Linked DNA regions of Homo sapiens: region 2 is linked to region 1. Evidence: fine-mapped expression QTL. A gene starts in region 1. The other region holds a variant in brackets. All regions are shown on one strand. Distances are between the middles of the regions.

Region 1 (10,868 bases):
ACCCGAATGCACCCTACCCTGCTGTGTGTTAGCTTACCACCACCACCACCACCACCTGCCCCACCCAAAGTGATTGTCTCCTTCTACCCTTCTATATAATTAGTAATGTAAAAGGTTTGCATTTTATTTTCTGTTTCCTTGCTCTTGTATGTACCATTCACGAGGGCCAGGGTGCTTGAGATTTGTTCACCTATGAATCCCAGTTGACTAGACTGGCACGTAGTAGACCTTAATAAGCACTCGTTGAAAGAGTGAATGGATGAATCATTGGATAATCACAACATGCAAAATAATATAGGCTACATTATTATTGAGACTACACAGGCCTCCGTGGTCCAAGTTACAGGAGGAATCTCAACCACTTCTCATGCGTTGCACATGTGGAGATAACATTGGCAACACTGGTGTCATTTGCCACAGGAACTGGGGCGGAAGTCGACCAGTCAAGAACTGGGCCTGATTTTCACTATCTGTGTATAGACTCTGCCTTCCCCTCCAAATCACCCTTGTGAGCTTTGCAAGCCTGTTGCATGATGAGCAGTGCAAGCCTAGAGCCCACTTCTCCTCCAGTCTCTGAGCCCCAGATTACTCCAGTTATTCTTCTATGTAGTCTTGGCTGAGCTGAGCCCCTCCTTTGACAAAGTGCCCTCACAGGGATTTTCAAAGAAATTCCATCTGCTCTTTGACATTTAACTGTTCCATGGCTCACGAGCCCTGGAGGAATCTGTGTACAGGTCTCAGCACATCTTCGTAAGAATCACCCTTCTCCACCTCCACCACGACTCCAAAATAATTTCCTCCAGAAGGCCAGAATTCTACCTTTCTGCCAAAGAAAAGAGTCGGGGGGATCCTGCCCGCTACCCACCTCACAGGAGCCAACGTGAGCCCAGGCCGAATCCAAATCTCCCTTTGGTCATGGCCATTGTCTGCTCTGCACTTGCCTGCTGGGGCCAAGGCCGCAACACTGGGCCCAAGGAGGATGCCCTGGAACCTGTCTTTTTTTCATGGGCAGATGCCCACTGTTTGCTGTCTGTCAGCATCTTATCCCGGTTGCTCTGCTCAAGGGAAGAGGTCTGCCAGTATCTTCTGCATTGGCAACAGTATCGGAGCAATGTCACAGGCTCAGAAACATTGTTGTTTGCTTGGTCCACCGTGGGAAAGCCAGGACCTAGGATTTTGAGGACTGATGGAGGGTGCTGGGTAGTTAAGTTTCTGGGGAATGTGTCGTGATGGGGAAGTCCACTTGTCTTGGAAGGAAATGCTCACTCCACACATATGATCCCTCAAAGATGCCTGGCAATAGGGCCCCAGCCCTTCCAAATAAAGGGACAGACTGCCACAGCTAATCCTGAAAGTGCAGATTAATTTTATTTTCCCACACCTCCTCACCTGACCCCGGCATGTTCCCTGTCACTCCTACCCTGCCATGTGTCCAAGTTTGAAAACAGAAGACTTTCCCAGCCCCAGCTGTCCTGGAGATGGAGTCTTTCCCTGTAGCATAGCAGCATGGGCTTCAGACTTGGCAGGCCCTGGGTCCACCTGCAAGGCTGCCAGTGACCAGCCAGCTGATCCTGGCAACTTGCTTGTGAGATCTGAGTTGGGGTTTTCTCCTCTGTAAACTCGGCCTGGCCTGGTGGCATCTCCCTTGCAGGACTACTGCAAAGTTAGAGACAATGCATGAAAACAGCAATCAAAGTGCCTGGAACAATTTAGGCACTCGGTAAATGCCAGCTGCCAAGTTTGCTAGGCTTTGGGCAGCTTGGGGCTCTCTATCCTTGAGTTATCCTAACAACTGGAGTGTTCTAGGACCCAGAAACTCAATCGCTTTTCAGAGGCATCCTTGCACCTAAAACTGCAGCTTTCCCACTTGCTTTGTGGAACCTCCGCTGGGGTGGGGCCAGTTTAGGTTTCAGATTTACTCAGCAAGAGGCTTGCACCTGGATGTCTCATCTGGATGCCCCGCAAAGCTCAAAGAATTTTTGTAAATGGCACGGTGAATGTTTTCTTTTTCTCTCCACCTTCCAGAAGCCCCTTTCCCTGCCTCTCCCTCACCCCTGTCTTTCATTTCACAGCCACCGGAAGTCCCGCCCTTCTTCAGCCTTTATCTAATCAAAGGAAGTTTAACTCTTTGCAGTACTCCTGTAGTGTGTTAGGGAGACTGAACCCCCAGGCCACAAGAGAATAAGCCTGGCCCATTGATCGCTTCCTTCTTGCGCTAGGGCAGGTCACCTGTCACCCAATCCCTTGTTTCCCAATCCCCTGCAGAGCCTCCTGCCTGAGGCCTTCAGGATTCCAGCAGTCATCTCTCTGACAGGGCAGCTGGAGGTATTCTCCCAGTCTTTCTCCTCTTATACTGCTGGTTCTCTGACTGAATTAAGCTTCTTGGCCCGTACTTGCAAAGAACCATTTTAGACCATTGGATGATAACTTGCCACCAGAGCCGAAGAAAGCATGGATTCAGACAGGGTTGGGGAAGACATTACCTCTTCCCCTGAGCTAGCCGGAGGAGCATCCTGTTAAATGGGCAGTAATCACACCGGCCTGGCAGAGATAATATGTGGCATGCCTCTGGGACAGGCAGGTGCTCAACAAATCTTTTTACTCTGCAGCTCTCCCACTTACTAGCTGACTGACCTGGGGCTGACTGACTGCTGTAAGCCCCCTTGGGTAAAAGGGCGGGTCGGGGGAGGAATGTAATCCGGCCTGGTCCCCAGAAGGATTGGATGCCGCGGCCAGGGTTACTCACACCTCTTCCCCTGCCTTCACGTGGTGTTTCTTTTGAGGACAGAGACCTTGAGAGTGCACTAGCAGGCAGAGACCGGCAGCAGGGTGGCCTAGAGGAAAGCACTGTGGGTTTGCAGGGAATGGACATAGGGTCTTGTCTAGGATCTCTCTCTTGCCACTTCTGTGGCTCTAGAAGAGAAAGTCACCGAGGAACCTGGACCTCAGATTCCCACCTTGTTTACCTCTGGAGGTGGTATTGATAAATACAGCTCCTCCCAGGGCAAAGAACAGGCCTTTTGATTTTCTGCAGCTCCAGTTTCTAACACACTGTCTGAATCCCAGAAGGCGCTCACCATTTTCTGGCTTGCTGAATGAATTTGGAGCTGCTGATGGGGTCATAGTTACTACTTTTGTTTGAAGCCTCCTTGGCCTGCAAGCTGAGGAGAGTGGGTCCCTGGGCCTTCTCCAGAAGGTCATTTGCTAGCCTACCCTGCACCTAGTGACGTTACTTTGCACACAGCTGGAAGCAGCGTGAGCCTGGATGTCAAGAAGGAAGAAGGTAGCCTGACCACTCTTTTGTGTGTTATAGCTGCTACCATGAGCCCCACAGGGCTAGGTTGGGCACTTGTCACTAGTGCTCCCCAGCAGGGGACCTAGTTCATGCAGTGCTTAGCTCTTGGAGAAAAGGTGGTAGGATTTGCGCCTGATCCCACATGACTTAGTATAGCATGGGCCATCGTGCCAGGTACCAATCCGGACTTACTCCATTGCCCCTTTGCCCCCTTGGACACACACACTTTTAAACAATGTGTGCACCCTAACGAACCATAGTTCCTGAGAGAAGTGCAAGGTTACCTTTCGGAGATGCCACAGGTGGAGCCTTTTCTCTGGCTCATCCAGTATCTCAGAAGTTCTGCTTTTTTATAGCCTTTTCTCGAATTATTTCAGGGTTGTTATTATTAACCATTTTTATTGTCATTAGTTTAAAGTCAGCCACAACACCCACCCTTTGAGGGTCTGCCCCGCTCACTTCTTCCCTTGCCTCATTCCTTGTTCTCCACTTTCCCCTTCATATAACCTTAACAGTTCGGTGAAGAGTTTATTTCCAAATGTCCACGCTACCTTCAGTGCCTCCATTTTTACTCCCTCCCCTTCTTCTCTATTATTTCCAAACCTCAGATTGTCCCCTCACCAAGATTTTCTGACGGTCTCATCTTTTTTTATTTCTGAAGTACCCCATGACAACCTTTTCCCCTGCAACCACCCCTTCTCTCTGCCCTCCTCCTCTCAAGATGATTTTTGTGTATTTTCTACTTCCGTGGCAGGCACCCTGTGATGTCCTCTTCTTTTTGCCAGTGCTCCCTCCCCTATGCTGGGTGGAGTATCCAATCAAATATCTAATACATAATATTTTCATCATATATTCTGATCGTATATTTCAGTCCCCCCCAAACTTATTTAAGTGTCTCTTGAATTTTCACACATCCTATGGTGCTCCCTTCCCCGGCCCACTCCCCAAGACAGGTCACATAAGGTTTTTTACATTTTCATGGCACTTCAGGCTCGTTCTCTATCCCAGCATTTACTGCACTGCCAGTTTACCTATTTTTCTTTCCCACATAATCTAGAACATTCTTTGGACCTGGAGGATGTGTACTAGGGAGTATCCCTAGAATCTAGACTGGTGCCTCACATAACAGGTGGTCAGAAAATGCGCAAGATGTACTATTCGTTAGGCTTTTATTTTTCTCTATGTTCTGCAGTAACTAAGGAAAATCATGGTAAATGTCAATCTTCACACAACAGCAGACACAAAGGGTTTCAGAAACGTCAGATATGAAGAAATCCTCCATCCTTCTTCAACATTTTACTGGGTATTTCAACTTCAAAAGAACAGCTTATTTCTATAAGTGCTGTACAAGATCATAGATTATGATGGAACGACTTCATTTTAGAACGTTAGCAAAACTGTTATACTAAATGTCAATGACAGGAAACAAAGAAAAAAATTTGTTCAATTATATTTTTAAACATATTGTTATTCTCAACAAACGGAATTTTAAAACGAATACAATTTTCCATTATCAAAAGCAAACACTCTATTTCGCAGTTGAACAATGATCACTGATCACAAATATCAAATACAGTGTCCCCCGCCCCCAATCGACATCATTTTCAACTTAGGACCCTGGCATCTACTCCTTGGGGTACCTGTGACTCTCTTTTACACCCCCAAGGGTCTGCCTCAGATCTACTTAAGGGGCGGAATAACCCCTAGCACCTGAATTGAGGATAGCCTCAACCTCTGCATCATCGTCCGAATCCCAGTCATAATTACAAGGCCAGTCTTTAGAGCATCGGTTACGAACCCTTGCCACAAAATGCATGACTTTCAGTTTGCTCGATTCCACGTGTGCTCGGGGCCCCCAGAAGAACTCATACTCCACCGGACTGCTACGGGGCACCGGTTTATAAATCAGGTACCCTCTGCGCACAAACTCTTCTGTGACGATCTTCTTCGGATCTCCAAAGATGCTGTGCTGACGTCCAGGCTGCATTCCTAACTTCCCCAGCACTTTCCAGACCAGAGCTTCCTTGGCGCTGTTGCCCATGATGAAGATGAGCGCTAATATAGACATCAGGAGACTTTTCTTGGTGCCCTGAAAATTGCTCCGGGGCACTGAAGGCTTTTGTGCTTGGGCAGTGCTCGAGGCTTCTTCAGGGGTGGTAGAGGCCTCCTCTGGAGTGCTCGGGTCTTCCTCGGGGCCGCTCAGGTCGTCTTCGGGGGTGCTCGCTACCACAGAGGCGGCCATAGGGGTCTCGGAGGCCTCTGAGGCCTGGATTTTGCGATTGTTGCGGTTCTCTTCTGCGGCTCTCGCATTACGGCGGCGCCGACTCTTTCGTCCCCGAGGCATGTCTCCTGCTAGAGGCTCAAAGCTTACAGCAGTCCTAGGGAAGGATGCTTGTAGCCTCTTCAGGAAGCAACAGCTTTATACCGTAAGAAGCTGCTGCCGCTGAAGCTACCAATGTCAATAGAGTCTTTGTAGCAATAAACAAGCCGTTCTCAGCTACAAAGGGTAGTTCCCACGCCAGCTGACTTGCGCGAGCAGCCGCCGCCAGCACTTGCCGCAGCTGCAAGCCCGCGAGAAAGCTCAGCAAAATTGGCCCCGCCTCTCCTGCCACGCACACTCCTAGCACCAAAGAGGAAGTAGGCTGGTCCTCCACAGGGACTTCCGCTAGCAGATAGGAAAAGGGGCAGGCAGCGACAGGGGTGGGACAAGGGCAGAAATGACAGCTAGAGATTGGAGGGGCCTGGAGTTTGCAGAAGAGAAAAAAATAGCTTAAAGTTTCTGTATTTTCAGCCTACTACAAACATTCCAAGATTGGCTCGACGGTCTAGGGAAGGAGTGCGTCGGCTCCATTCCCACTGACGACGGGCTGTGTGTGTGTTGGGGGTTGGGAGGCCAGGGGTGGCGGGAGGGTGTATTCTTGGAAGGAGTCAGCTGTCTCCAGCCTTCCTTTCCTGTCTTGGCTTACACAGCGCGTTCATTCACTCGCCCTGTTTTCAGAAGGCATTTGTGTGTATACTAATCAATTTGTGGTCCCATGTAGGACCCGGATAATATTGTTATGGCAGATGTGCTGGATGATGTGAGGAGATGGGACTGCAGAAACAAGCAGGGTGAAAGAGGTGCAGAGCCTTTAAAATGTGGTAGATATATGCACGATATATATACTGCCCTGCTTTTATACATACATACATACATACCTATATCGTGCATATATCTACCACATTATGTTTATATACAGTGCATATATCTACCACACATATATGTATGTATGTATGTATGAAAGCAGGGCAGTGACAGGATCAGAGGAATTGCATTTGTGCAGCCTCTCAGAAAAGCAAACTGTTTCCTGGCAGACCACATAGGAAGCAATTGGAATAAGAAGCACTGGGAACTAAAGTATGCCTTAAGGCTGTTGCCATGGGGATGGAGAGGCAGAAAGACATTTTAAAGGTGACCGTTGAAGGGCTTTGCAGACAGAATGGATGAAGTGGGGAATGTGGAGGGGATGATGGAGTTCAGATTGGCTCCAAGGTTTCTAGGCTCCAGTCTTCCTGGACTCCTGATTTATTTTGCTTCTTTCAGAGCATACTCTGAACTTTATCCACTGCTTGCTTTTGCTCACTGTTTGCTCTGCCTGACCTGTCTTCTCAGCCTTCTCCAACTATCTAAATTCCATTTGACTGCTCACAGACCTGTTTCTCCCTGAAGCTTGTCTTGATCTGCCCAAAAGGGTAATGAGTCCATTTTTACTCCATTGAGGAAAGCCCTATAACTAGCACTCTATATCTTTCTTATGTCATTCAAGGTATTAGTTTAAGCAAGTCACTTCTCTCTAAGCCTGTTTTCCCATCTATAAAGTGGGGCTAAAGTACAGCCCTCATAGGGTTGTGAGAATTAAATGAGATAAAAAATGAAAAGCATTTATTACATGGTAAGCACAGATTTTGCCTCTCAAGGTTTTCCAAGCGGTGTGTGAGTGTGGCATTTAATAAATGCGTGCTGAAGGAATTCATGATGGAAAAGATTTTATAGGTGTTCTTAACTGAACTCTTAAGAAACAAATGAATACTTTATGCCTGTCTTGCTGAAATTTTCTTTATAATTAGAGCCCACCGAGACCTCCTGTTGGGTAAGTTAGCAATAAATCAATTTGGTCAAGCAAAGAAAGCACCTCTCCAGGACACAGAGCACTCTTGAGCCAGCCCTCCGTTTGGGATAACCTTTGCACGCGTTCTGGGACATGACCTACTCAAAACAGTAGTCTGGCTCCATCTGCTGTCCCACATTCTGAGAATTCTCGCAGTTTCTGGTCCATTGATAATTGCTCTGAATTGTTTTTCAGTACAGGTATGAACTTATTTTACTGTTTCCAGGAATTTGGGTCTTGCATGGAAGTCTATAGCATGTACAATCCTACCCTCATGAAACAAAAATGGGAGGATTACTTTTGCAGTTTATTTGCTTGTTTTTAGCATGAATTTTTTTTTACTGCGACTTAATCTCAAACGTAGGGCAAAGAAGAGAGATTAATATTATAAACACCAATAGCTAGCTGTATAAAATTTAAATATTAGGCCCTACTTACTGTTTATCTTTTATATATTGGATATGGCAAAACCCTCCTATTACGTCTTCCCTGACCCACTCTGCTCTCTCCTTCCCCACTGTGCTCCTCTATAATGAAGTCAGCAATTATGCCCATGGAGACTTGTATATATTTGCTACCTACTTCTGTGTCTGTACACAATATAGAATCTCTTCCTTTATTTAAAGCACGTCTTCATAATGTATACATTGATCAACACTTTGGTTTTCCAGCTCAACTTTATATTTTTTATGTTTACCCATGTAAATACATGGAACTCTAGTTCATTTATTTTAATTTTGTACATTTCATCATTTTCAATTTATCCTGTTCCTAATGATCCACGCCTATGCAGTTCCCATTTTTCCAAAACAAAATAATACTCTTATTAATATTTGTGCGCATGTTCCCTATGAACATGTGCATGCATTTCTCTAGGATCAACATCAACGAGTAGGGTTGCTGATGTGTTGGCATGTATATGTTTAGATAGAACACATGGCTTTCCACTTTGTTTCATTTATAAAAATCAAACCATTCCATATTGAATTTCCAGGCAAACCTTTTTCCTAATTAATAATGAAATCTCCTCAATTTATACCTCTAATTCTTTCATTCTAGTGGCTGAATGTTATTCCTTGCAATGGATTTACCATAATCTCTTCAAGTGTCTGCCTGTTGGCTGGGCGTACTGTATTTCCAACTTATTTAATTTTCTTTTTCTATTATTATTATACTTTAAGTTCTAGGGTACATGTGCACAACGTGCAACTTTGTTACATAGGTATACATGTGCCATGTTGATTTGCTGCACCCATTAACTCGTCATTTACATTGGGTATTTCTCCTAATGCTATCCCTCCCCCTACCCTCCACCCCACGACAGGCCCCAGGGTGTGATGTTCCCCTCCCTGTGTCCAAGTGTTCTCATTGTTCAATTCCCACCTATGAGGGAGAACATACAGTGTTTGGTTTTCTGTCCTTGTGATAGTTTGCTCAGAATGTTGGTTTCTAGCTTCATCCATGTCCCTACAAACGACATGAAATCATCCTTTTTTATGGCTGTATAGTATTCCATGGTGTATATGTGTCACATTTTCTTAACCCAGTCTATCATTGATAGACAGTTGGGTTGGTTCCAAGTCCTTGCTATTGTGAACAGTGCCACAATAAACATATGTGTGCATGTGTCTTTATAGTAGAATGATTTATAATCCTTTGGGTATACACCCAGTAATGGGATCACTGGGTCAAATGGTATTTCTAGTTCTAGATCCTTGAGGAATTGCCACACTGTCTTCCACAATGGTTGAACTAATTTACACTCCCACCAGCAGTGTAAAAGCTTTCTTATTTCTCCACATCCTCTCCAGCATCTGTTGTTTCCTGACTTTTTAATGATTGCCATTCTAACTGGTGTGAGATGGTATCTCATTGTGGTTTTGATTTGCATTTCTCTGATAACCAGTGATGATGAGCATTTTTTCATGTGTCTGTTGGCTGCATAAATGTCTTCTTTTGAGAAGTGTCTGTTCATATCCCTTGCCCACTTTTTGATGGGGTTGTTTGTTTTGTTGAAAATTTGTTTAAGTTCTTTGTAGATTCTTGATATTAGCCCTTTGTCAGATGGGTAGATAGTAAAAATTTTCTCCCATTCTGTAGGTTGCCTGTTCACTCTGATGGTAGTTTGTTTTGCTGTGCATAAGATCTTTAGTTTAATTAGATCCATTTGTCTATTTTGGCTTTTGTTGCCATTGCTTTTGATGTTTTAGTCATGAAGTCCTTGCCCATGCCTATGTCCTGAATGGTAATGCCTAGGTTTTCTTCTAGGATTTTTATGGTTTCAGGTCTAACATTTAAGTCTTTCACCCATCTTGAATTAATTTTTGTATAAGGTGTAATGAAGGGATCCAGTTTCAGCTTTCTACATATGGCTAGCCAGTTTTCCCAGCACCATATATTAAATAGGGAATGCTTTCCCCATTACTTGTTTTTGTCAGGTTTGTCAAAGATCAGATGGTTGTAGATTTGTGGTATTATTTCTGAGGGCTCTGTTCTGTTCCACTGGACTGTATCTCTGTTTTGGTACCAGTACCATGCTGTTTTGGTTACTGTAGCCTTGTACTATAAAGTCAGGTAGCATGATGCCTCCAGCTTTGTTCTTTTTGCTTAGGATTGTCTTGGCAATGTGGGGTCTTTTTTGGTTCCATATGAACTTTAAAGTAGTTTTTTCCAATTCTGTGAAGAAAGTCATTGGTAGCTTGATGGGGATGGCACTGAATCTATAAATTACCTTGGGCAGTATGGCCATTTTCACGATATTGATTCTTCCTACCCATGAGCATGGAATGTTCTTCCATTTGTTTGTATCCTCTTTTATTTCATTGAGCAGTGGTTTACAGTTCTCCTTGAAGAGGTCCTTCACTTCCCTTGTAAGTTGGATTTCTAGGTATTTTATTCTCTTTGTAGCAATTGTGAATGGGAGTTCACTCATAATTTGGCTCTCTGTTTGTCTGTTGTTGGTGTATAGAAATGCTTGTGATTGTTGCAAATTGATTTTGTAACCTGAGACTATGCTGAAGTTGTTTATCAGCTTAAGGAGATTTTGGGCCGAGACAATGGGGTTTTCTAAATATACAATCATGTCATCTGCAAACAGGGACAATTTGACTTCCTCTTTTCCTAAGGGAATACTCTTTATTTCTTTCTCTTGCCTGATTGCCCTGGCCAGAACTTCCAATACTATGTTGAGTAGGAGTGGTGAGAGGGGGCATCCTTGTCTTGTGCCGGTTTTCAGAGGGGATGCTTCCAGTTTTTGCCCATTCAGTATGATATTGGCTATGGGTTTGTCATAAATAGCCTTTATTATTTTGGGACATGTTCCATTGATACCTAGTTTATTGAGAGTTTTTAGCATGAAGGGCTGTTGAATTTTGTCGAAGGCCTTTTCTGCATCTATTGAGATAATCATGTGTTTTTTTGTCATT
Region 2 (10,868 bases), 49 kb after region 1:
ATATCTCAATATTTCTAGCCCTATTTCAGCTGCTTAGTAGCCACATGTAGGTAGTGGCTATTATATTGGACAACACAGGTCTGCACTGTTCTTAGCAGGAGGCCCACATTCTGGAGGGACATAAAAGAGGCTCAAGACAACACCCTGTCTCTTCATGGAGAAGATACTTCTAGTGAGAACTCATTGGCTTCTATGAATAACTAGCTGAAAAATATCAATGTGAGTTTTTTAGTTCTCTCGAAAGCAGTGTTTGTGCACAAGAAAGGCCACTTCGGTTAATGTTGATATAAGCATATAATTTGTTAAATTTATGGACTAAAAATCCTAGTTTTTTAAAGTTTTTAATGTCAAATTTAAATTATTTTTATCAACTTACTTTACCAGTCATTTTCAAGGGAGCATTTATAAGTTTATTAAGTTTCTTTGCATATTTTAAACTGAATTGATAAATTTATATTTGAGTTTCATTTTAAATACCTCAATTTTCTCACAAACAAATCTTCTCAAGATCTTAGATAAAACATCAAAATAATCATATAAATATAGTAAAACTGAAGTTCTCCTAAATATTCCAATATAATTTATAAGTTTTGCAAAATTCTCATATAACTTTCAATATAAAATTCTCAAATCTAATCATTAATTCAACTACACATTTAAAATTAGTAACCACTGAACTCTCTAATATGCCCAATTCTCTTACCATTGCAAACCTTTAAATAAAAGATATATAGAGACTATTCCTAATCTGTACACAAAATTTTAAGAGCATGGATTCAATTCAGTTTGTCATATGTATATTATTTATAATCTTTCTGGAATTAAAACTCACCCATGTAGAAAGCAGTTCAAGATCCAAGATTTTGGAATTTTCATCTTAGACACTTGAGGTAGAATATCAAACCTAGAGCTTTTGGCTGTGATGCGAGATACAGAGCTGCAGAGATTTCATTGCTGACTCCTCTTTACATCTTTATGTCTTACTCAGAGGGCTGGTTCCTCTATTCTACATTAATTTACAACTATGGTTCTTGATGCCCATGAGTTCCATGAAGTTGCCTTGAATACTACCTTGGGAAGCAAGGTAGAGAGTAAGCTAGTGAGAATCTGGAATTTACTTGAGGGGTTCCAAGTAATATTTGCAAAAAGTTCTCTGCTACTGAATGCTTCAACCAAAGTTTTATGCTTTGGGGTTTGAGGTAATATGTGAAGAAAAGGTTCTGCTACTGAAAAAAATGTTTTTACAACACCATGTGGAAGATCTTAGTCCGTAGAGGAATAATGTAGTTAACTATATCTGTAATTTATTTGGACAGTAATCCAATAAGCTGTAGAGATCTGGTTTCCTTCCTATTAACTCTTAATCTGGCTTAAGTTGCTCCTGATAGAGCTTTCTGTGATCTGGTACAAGGAATACCATCACCACCAACTTTAGTGTCCACTAAAAAACTGAGGAGACTTCAGATGTTGTACTTAGTTCACTGAACATACCAGTCTGATGCCTCCTTGTATGTTCTTCCTAGGATGTTCTTCTATAAGACTTATGTGTAATAAGAAGTGGTAAACTGAGGACATTATATGTATAGAAGACCCTCAGAAGACCTGTAAGGAAATGCATGACATTAGGAAATAGCTAAGCATTGTATCACTGCAAGTGTGGATACTCTCTATTGTCTGTAACATGCGAATAGCCATTCAAATAGAGTTGAGCCCCACTACACTCTCCAAATACTGGGACCACATTGAGGAGGCACTGGTCAAAGGTGATCATGATTGTGTGTATCTCATATCCATGCATGTTCAGTCATCATAATTATCTCCAAAAGAATTTTTAGAGCATTACACCTCACAGAAATGTTGCATTCTGACATTGCAGCTTTTCTCACATGTTCTATAATAGGCAGTTCTGGCTGTAAACAGTGCATATCGAAGTGGATCCTTCTAGCTATAATGTCAATGGTGCAAGTCAAACTGGAACTGGAAAAATGAGGCTTATGTCTTCTGATTTACATAAGATGATGGAGAATGGAATGATCAGAACTTCAGTAAACATGAGTTTTTACCCTCTAAAGTATTGTACACTGTCCTTAACTGATATGTTTCATATCGAGTGTGGAAGTCTACCCTACATAGACAATCTTGAGAGTAAGAAAGAGGGACAAAGGTATTACTCTAGCCTGAAAGGGTCTTGCGAAACAATGTCTCCTGACTTCATTATTTAAAGTGCTGGTTTGGGCATAGAGAAGGTGGATTGGTGCAGGTTAGTGCAAGGCAGAAAGTTAAGCAGGGTTTTGAGTTGCTGCTAGATCAAGGGTCCATTTTTGTGATCAAACTCTTAGGACACAGACATTTGGGGTGAGGTGTATGTAATAACTGACAAAGCCCAGGGAGATGACACAATCATCAAAAAGGACAGAGGAAGGGACCACGAGCTTGGTCAGATTCTCAGATAGGTATGTGGCTTAGGGAATTATAAAAAGTACTTTGACTGGGAGAAGCTCTTGTCTAGAAGTAGACCTCTGTAGAAGTTTAGGATGTGATATTGACTAACAGTGTGCCTTGGACAAGTTGCTTAAATTCCTTAAAGCTGCAGTTTTTCTTTCTGTGCAGTGGGAATGATAATACCTGTTTCAGCATCATTGTCAGAAACACATTGTCAGGAAGCACATTGTAAATCCAAAATGCTTTAAAATGCAAAGTGTTCTGGTGTAGCACAGATCCATTCTTTAATCAAAGTGAAGAGTTGTGTTTGATGAGAAAAGAAAGCAGAAAATTTGTTTGTCAAGGAAAATAAAGTTTCTATATGTGACAATGACATTTTTAATGAAGCAATTATTTGTTTGAAATGCACTGATTGCTTTGATTATTTGTATCATATGTGTTGGTAATAACAATAGTGATACTGATGCCTTATATTTCCAAAGTTTATAGCACTCTTGATTTATCTTACCAGATGTTCCCGATAGCTGTGTCTTACTCTTGAATGTTGAATAGGTTCATGACTGGGACCATAGTGTTCCATTGCCATGGTTTCACTGGATTTCATAAACTGTTGCTTAGCAATCCCACCTGTCACCCAGCTATTTTCCCTTTGCACTGTCTTCACATTGTACCACCAGCAAAATGTAGCTGAGCCTCTTGGTGAGGGAAAATACTAGTCTCCTAACAAAGTTTAATCTTCCCACTTTGGGCTATTTTCTTTTTTAAAAAAATCAGAATGCCAGATGCCAGAGAGCTTTATATTTTAGTGATAAATATAGGGTGTGTGGAGTCAAAGCAGACCTGTATTCACATCTTGGGCTTGACAACTTATTAGCTATTTGATCTTTAGTCAATTACTTAATCTCTCCATGTCTCATATTCTTCATCTATAAAATGTGATAATTATATTCATCCCAGGGGGATATTGTGAGGATTAAATCAGATAACACATCAAAAATGCACCCGGCACTTAATAGGGCCCCATAACTGTTATTTGCATTATTAAGACAGAAAGCAGGTGGTAAAAACACATCTGCCTAATGCACACCTTTCTGCAGCAGACTGCTCTAATGTGCTGGTGAGAGTCTTAAAATTCTACATCAACTACTAACGTTGAAAAACCTAGTTTTGATAGCTGGTATAAGGCTATAATGCAACGCTTACAATCAGCTTGTAATCAGTGAAACACTGATCAATACATTCCTATTGGTCCAAATGCCAGTTCCATGGGTCCAAATGACTTTAATCCCTAGATGAGTGACAGCATGCTGTATGTATGTTATATTTTATTTGCTTCTAATAGATATCTGTAGGTGGCTATCTGAATGGATACTGCTAATGAAGTAACATGAGACTCAATGTCTCCATCCTACCTAACAACAACACTAATATGCCCGTTTATATTGTATATGTATCCATAGGAAAACAATGTTTACTTAAAATTCTCTATTGCCTTTTAAGGAAGTCAGTTATACTAAGTGGAGGAGATTGTTTTTTTCTGAGTGCTGTTTTTAGCTTTAGAATACTAAATGTCTTTTTACATATTTCAAGGCAAAATTCAGTAAAGGGTAAGGTGTTCCCATTTAGCTTTAGAAACTGAGAGATTCTTACATTTGATTTATAATTGTTCTATTGTAATGGGGGTAGAGGGGAGCTGATAACCAAGTAGGGCAAGATCTAGAGAAATTTAGAGGCTTCCCAGAAGAAGAATATAGAGGGGAATCCTTCTGGTTAGAGAATGTGGCCAATGCAGGTTTTTCTGGTGAAACACTGAGGAATAAACTTCATCTGCTCCCTGAAATTCTCACTCACTGCTGTGATGTGAATGGATTATTCTAAAAAAGTCTAGGCCGGGCACAGTGGCTCACGCCTGTAATCCCAGCACTTTGGGAGGCTGAGGCAAACGGATCATGAGGTCAGGAGTTCGAGACCAGCCTGGCCAACACAGTAAAACCCCATCTCTACTAAAAATACAAAAATTAGCTGGGCATGGTGGCGGGTGCCTGTAATCCCAGCTATTCGAGAGGCTGAGGCAGGATAATCGCTTGAACCCAGGAGGCGGAGGTTGCAGTGAGCCAAGATCGTGCCACCGCACTCCAGCCTGGGTGACAGAGCTAGACTCCATCTCAAAAAAAAAAAAAAAAGAAAGAAAGAAAGAAAAAGAAAAGTCTGAAAATATTCTGATTCCTATTTCAGGTTTGGGTTTGGAAATAAGAGTCTGCGTGTCTAGGTAGCAAACATGAGGTTTACATTTAATCTCCACAAACCACACTTGTGTGAATGAAGAAGCATGATAATGTGAAAAGACATAGAGATCACCATTCACAGGTTACACAGCAATGGAGGGTATGTACTCTGCTCTAGCTAGAAGCCTACAGTCTAAATAAGCACATGAGAAGCCTGAGGCAGTCTCCTGAGTCACGTGATAATTGAAAAGTCTCTAGTGAGAGGCCCTAGGCTCCTGGGGTTTCTGACACTGCCCTCCTAAAGGAATGCTTGAGTTTCATTTTTTTTTCTTTGTTTTATTATTATACTTTAAGTTTTAGGGTACATGTGCACAATGTGCAGGTTTGTTTCATATATATACACATGTGCCCTGCTGGTGTGCTGCATCCATTAACTCATCATTTAACTTTAGGTATATCTCCTAATGCTTGTATCACCACAGATACTAACTAGAAGGAATATTACTGTACCTGCTGTCACTCAGATACCAGCTGGGGCAAATCTTGAGAGCTCTGTAGAAGATAAGTGGAAACTTCCCAGTTGAGAAGATTCAAACAGTTTCCTTGAAAACAAACTTTCAAAATCAAAATAATACGGTCATAAATCATTTACAATCACTCTTTTTACCATTTAGAAATTATTTTTCAGCATTAATTGTTTTGTTGCTTTTTCTCCCAGGCCACAAGTTTATTCCTGTCACTTTTAAAAATATTTTGATCCTTTGTTTTTACTAAGGCAATGGATATTTTTTAACTTTTCTCCCCCAAACAAATTGTGCACTTATCAGAATCAAGGGGCGTTATTGATTTTGTATTTCATAAAGATGATTTTTATAGATTTTTATGTCTATTTTAACATTTTATTTATTATTTTCCATATTTGAACATTTTAATATATTTTCATAAAGATGTACCTACTGTATTTTTAATTATTACAAATTGTTCATACATGTAGAATAATCATTTGGAAAACAAAAGGTTGACAAACAGAAGGGTGATCAGAGTGATTAATCCCCAATTAATCCATTCATTCTTGGAACATGGTAACTCATTCTCTCACCTTTATGGAGATAAGCACAAAAAGTGATATTTTACACTGTTTGTAAAGTAAATATGTGTGTCTTTGGAGAATGTTTTCTCTTGTAAGCATCCTGTCTCAGTATATACCCAATCCTTGGTCAGCTCTAAAAACGGCTGCTTGGGACTAAAGCTAGACAAAATGGATTCAATTGTGAAGCTGTTAGTAGGCAGAACCTGGCAGTGGCAAGAAGGTAAACTGAGCACACGAATTAAAGCAGTGAATTGAGAGTAAATTGAAATGTAAATCAATCTGGAGCAGAACTTGAGAGGAGCTGGACACTATGGGGAAGATAATAAAAGGACAATTGAAAGAGGCATGAGAATACAGAATGTTTTTTATTATACTTTAAGTTATAGGGTACACGTGCACAATGTGCAGGTTTGTTACATATGTATACATGTGCTATGTTGGTGTGCTGCACCCATTAACTTGTCCTTTACATTAGGAATATCTCCTAATACTATCCCTCCCCCTTCCCCT[G/A]ACCCCACAACAGGCCCCGGTGTGTGATGTTCCCCTTCCTGTGTCCAAGTGTTCTCATTGTTCAATTCCCACCTATGAGTGAGAAAATGCGGTGTTTGGTTTTTTGTCCTTGCAATAGTTTGCTAAGAATGATGGTTTCCAGCTTCATGCATGTCCCTACAAAGGACATAAACTCATCCTTTTTTATGGCTGCATAGTATTCCATGGTGTATATATGCCACATTTTCTTAATCCAGTCTATCATTGATGGACATTTGGGTTGGTTCCAAGTCTTTGCTATTGTGAATAGTGCTGCAATAAACATACGTGTGCATGTGTCTTTATAGCATATAATCCTTTGGGTGTATACCCAGTAATGGGATGGCTGGGTCAAATGGTATTTCTAGTTCAAGATCCTTGAGGAATCGCCACACTGTCTTCCACAGTTGTTGGACAGTCCCACCAACAGTGTAAAAGTGTTCCTATTTCTCCACATTCTCTCCAGCACCTGTGTTTCCTGACTTTTTAATGATCACCATTCTAACTGGTGTGAGATGGTATCTCATTGTAGTTTTGATTTGCATTTCTCTGATGGCCAGTGATGATGAGCATTTTTTCATGTGTCTGTTGTCTGCACAAATGTCTTCTATTGAGAGGTGTCTGTTCATATACTTTGCCCACTTTTTGATGAGGTTGTTTGCTTTTTTCTTGTAAATTTGTTTGAGTTCTTTGTAGATTCTGGATATTAGACCTTTTTCAGATGAGTAGATTGCAAAAATTTTCTCCCATTCTGTAGGTTGCCTGTTCACTCTGATGGTAGTTTCCTTTGCTGTGCAGAAGCTCTTGAGTTTAATTAGATCCAATTAGTCAGTCTTGGCTTTTGTTGCCATTGCTTTTGGTGTTTTAGACATGAAGTCCTTCCCATGCCTATGTCCTCAATGGTATTGCCTAGGTTTTCTTCTAGGGTTTTTATGGTCTTGGGTCTAACATTTAAGTCTTTAATCCATCTTGAATTAATTTTTGTATAAGGTGTAAGGAAGGGATCCAGTTTCAGCTTTCTACATATGGCTAGCCAGTTTTCCCAGCACCATTTATTAAATAGGGAATCCTTTCCCCATTTCTTGTTTTTGTCAAGTTTGTCAAAGATCAGATGGTTGTAGATGTGTGGTATTATTTCTGAAGGCTCTGTTCTGTTCCATTGATCTATATCTCTGTTTTGGTACCAGTACCATGCTCTTTTGGTTACTGTGGCCTTGTAGTATAGTTTGAAGTCAGGTAGTGTGATGCCTCCATCTTTGTTCTTTTGACTTAATTGACTTGGCAATGCAGGCTCTTTTTTGGTTCCATATGAACTTTAAAGTAGTTATTTCCAATTCTGTGAAGAAAGTCCTTGGTAGCTTGATGGGGATGGCATTGAATCTATAAATTACCTTGGGCAGTATGGCCATTTTCACGATATTGATTCTTCCTATCCATGAGCATCGAAAGTTCTTCCGTTTGTTTGTGTCCTCTAGTATTTCATTGAGCAGTGATTTGTAGCTCTCCTGAAGAGGTCCTTCACATCCCTTGTAAGTTGGATTCCTAGGTATTTTATTCTCTTTGAAGCAATTGTGAATGGGAGTTCACTCATGATTTGGCTCTCTGTTTCTCTGTTATTGGTGTATAGGAATGCTTGTGATTTTTGCACATTGATTTTGTATCCTGAGACTTTGCTGAAGTTGCCTATCAGCTTAAGGAGATTTTGGGCTGAGATAATGGGGTTTTCTAAATATACAATCATGTCATCTGCAAACAGGGACAATTTGACTTCCTCTTTTCCTAATTGAATACCCTTTATTTCCTTCTTCTGCCTGATTGCCTTGGCCAGAACTTCCAACACTGTGTTGAATAGGAGTGGTGAGAGAGGGCATCCCTGTCTTGTGCCACTTTTCAAAGGGAATGCTTCCAGTTTTTGTCCATTCAGTATGATATTATCTGTGGGTTTGTCATAGATAGCTCTTATTATTTTGAGATACGTCCCATCAATACCTAATTTATTGACAGTTTTTAGCATGAAACGTCATTGAATTTTGTTGAAGGCCTTTTCTGCATCTATTGAGATAATCATGTGGTTTTTGTCTTTGGTTCTGTTTATATGCTGGATTACATTTATTGATTTGCGTATATTGAACCAGCCTTGCATCCCAGGGATGAAGCCTACTTGATCATGGTGGATAAGCTTTTTGATGTGCTGCTGGGTTCGGTTTGCCAGTATTTTACTGAGGATTTTTGCATCAATGTTCATCAAGGATATTGGTCTAAAATTATCTTTTTTGGTTGTGTCTCTGCCCGGCTTTGGTAACAGGATGATGCTGGCCTCATAAAATGAGTTAGGGAGGATTCTCTCTTTTTCTATTGATTGGAATAGTTTCAGAAGGAATGGTACAAGCTCCTCCTTGTACCTCTGGTACAATTCGGCTGTGAATCCATCTGGTCCTGGACTTTTTTTGGTTGGTAAGCTATTGATTATTACCTCAATTTCAGAGCCTGTTATTGGTCTATTCAGAGAGTCAACTTCTTCCTGGTTTAGTCTTGGGAGAGTGTATGTGTCGAGGAATTTATCCATTTCTTCTAGATTTTCTAGTTTATTGGATATAGGTGTTTGTAGTATTCTCTGATGGTAGTTTGTATTTCTGTGGGATTGGTGGTGATATCCCCTTTATCATTTTTTATTGCATCTATTTGATTCTTCTCTCTTTTCTTCTTTATTAGTCTTAATAGTGGTCTATCAATTTTGTTGATATTTTCAAACAACCATCTCCTCGATTCATTAATTTTTTGAAGGGTTTTTTGTGTCTCTATTTCCTTCAGTTCTGCTCTGATTTTAGTTATTTCTTGCTTTCTGCTAGCTTTTAAATGTGTTTACTCTTGCTTTTCTCGTTCTTTTAATTGTGATGTTAGGGTGTCAATTTTGGATCTTTCCTGCTTTCTCTTGTGGGCATTTAGTGCTATAAATTTCCTCCTACACACTGCTTTGAATGTGTCCCAGAGATTCTGGTATATTGTGTCTTTGTTCTCATTGGTTTCAAAGAACATCTTTACTTCTGGCTTCATTTCATTATGTATCCAGTAGTCATTCAGGAGCAGGTTGTTCAGTTTCCATGTAGTTGAGCAGTTTTCAGTGAGTTTCTTGATCCTGAGTTCTAGTTTGATTCCACTGTGGTCTGAGAGACAGTTTGTTATAATTTCTGTTCTTTTACATTTGCTGAGGAGTGCTTTACTTCCAACTATGTGGTCAATTTTGGAATAGGTCTGGTGTGGTGCTGAAAAAAATGTATATTCTGTTGATTTGGGGTGGAGAGTTCTGTAGATGTCTATTAGGTCTGCTTGGTGCAGAGCTGAGTTCAATTCCTGGATATCCTTGTTAACTTTCTGTCTCATTGATCTGTCTAATATTGACAGTGGGGTGTTAAAATCTCCCATTATTATTGTGTGGGAGTCTAAGTCTCTCTGTAGGTCACTCAGGACTTGCTTTATGAATCTGGGTCCTCCTGTCTTGGGTGCATATATATTTAGGATAGTTAGCTCTTCTCATTGAATTGATCCCTTTACCATTACTTAATGGCCTTCTTTGTCTCTTTTGATCTTTGTTGGTTTAAAGTTTGTTTTATCAGAGACTAGGACTGCAACCCCTGCCTTTTTTTGTTTTCCATTTGCTTGGTAGATCTTCCTCCATCCCTTTATTTTGAGCCTACGTGTGTCTCTGCCCGTGAGATGGGTTTCCTGAATACAGCACACTGATGGGTCTTGACTCTTTATCCAATTTGCCAGTCTGTGTCTTTTAATTGGAGCACTTACCCCACTTATATTTAAAGTTAATATTTTTATGTATGAATTTGGTCCTGTCATTATGATGTTAGCTGATTATTTTGCTCATTAGTTGATGCAGTTTCTTTCTAGCCTTGATGGTCTTTACATTTTGGCATGTTTTTGCAGTGGCTGGTACTGGTTGTTCCTTTCCATGTTTAGTGCTTCCTTCAGGAACTCTTTTAGGGCAGGCCTGGTGGTGACAAAATCTCTCAGCATTTTCTTCTCTGTAAAGTATTTTATTTCTCCTTCACTTATGAAGCTTAGTTTGGCTGGATACGAAATTCTGGGTTGAAAATTCTTTTAAGAATGTTGAATATTGGCCCCCACTCTCTTCTGTCTTGTAGAGTGCCTGCTGACAGATCAGCTGTTAGTCTGATAGGCTTCCCTTTGTTGGTAACCCAATCTTTCTCTCTGGCTGCCCTTAACATTTTTTCCTTCATTTCAACTTTGGTGAATCTGACAATTATTTGTCTTGGAGTTGCTCTTCTCGAGGAGTATCTTTGTGGCGTTCTCTGTATTTCCTGAATCTGAATGTTGGCCTGCCTTGCTAGGTTGGGGAAGTTCTCCTGGATAATATCCTGCAGAGTGTTTTCCAACTTGGTTCCATTCTCCCCGTCCCTTTCAGGTACACCAATCAGACGCTGATTTGGTCTTTTCACATAGTCCCATATTTCTTGGAGGCTTTGTTCATTTATTTTTATTCTTTTTTGTCTAAACTTCCCTTCTCACTTCATTTCATTCACTTCATCTTCCATCACTGATACCCTTTCTTC

Which allele goes with the higher level. Alleles are on the strand shown, and positions count from the first base shown. SD is a standard deviation of normalised expression in the study named.
For the expression in prostate of the gene that starts at base 5,887 in region 1, G is the high allele of the variant in region 2 and A is the other (small effect, 0.31 SD a copy in GTEx).

Evidence for each region.
Region 2: its variant is fine-mapped to the expression of MAGEH1 in prostate (GTEx, PIP above 0.99).

The regions. Positions count from the first base shown.
Region 1 is chrX:55,447,146-55,458,013 of GRCh38, reverse strand. MAGEH1 (MAGE family member H1) reads right to left here and starts at 5,887. Exons shown (of 1, transcript NM_014061.5): 1 at 4,448-5,887. The coding sequence starts at 5,639. The coding sequence ends at 4,980. It overlaps MIR4536-2 (microRNA 4536-2), which reads right to left and starts at 6,519; the gene lies at 6,432-6,519. It overlaps MIR4536-1 (microRNA 4536-1), which reads left to right and starts at 6,432; the gene lies at 6,432-6,519. RefSeq lists enhancers at 5,425-5,474, 5,625-5,674.
Region 2 is chrX:55,397,910-55,408,777 of GRCh38, reverse strand. No RefSeq gene overlaps it. Among named protein-coding and RNA genes, the nearest start is that of MIR4536-2, 48 kb to the left of the region's middle. The variant G/A (reference allele first, on the strand shown) is at 6,268.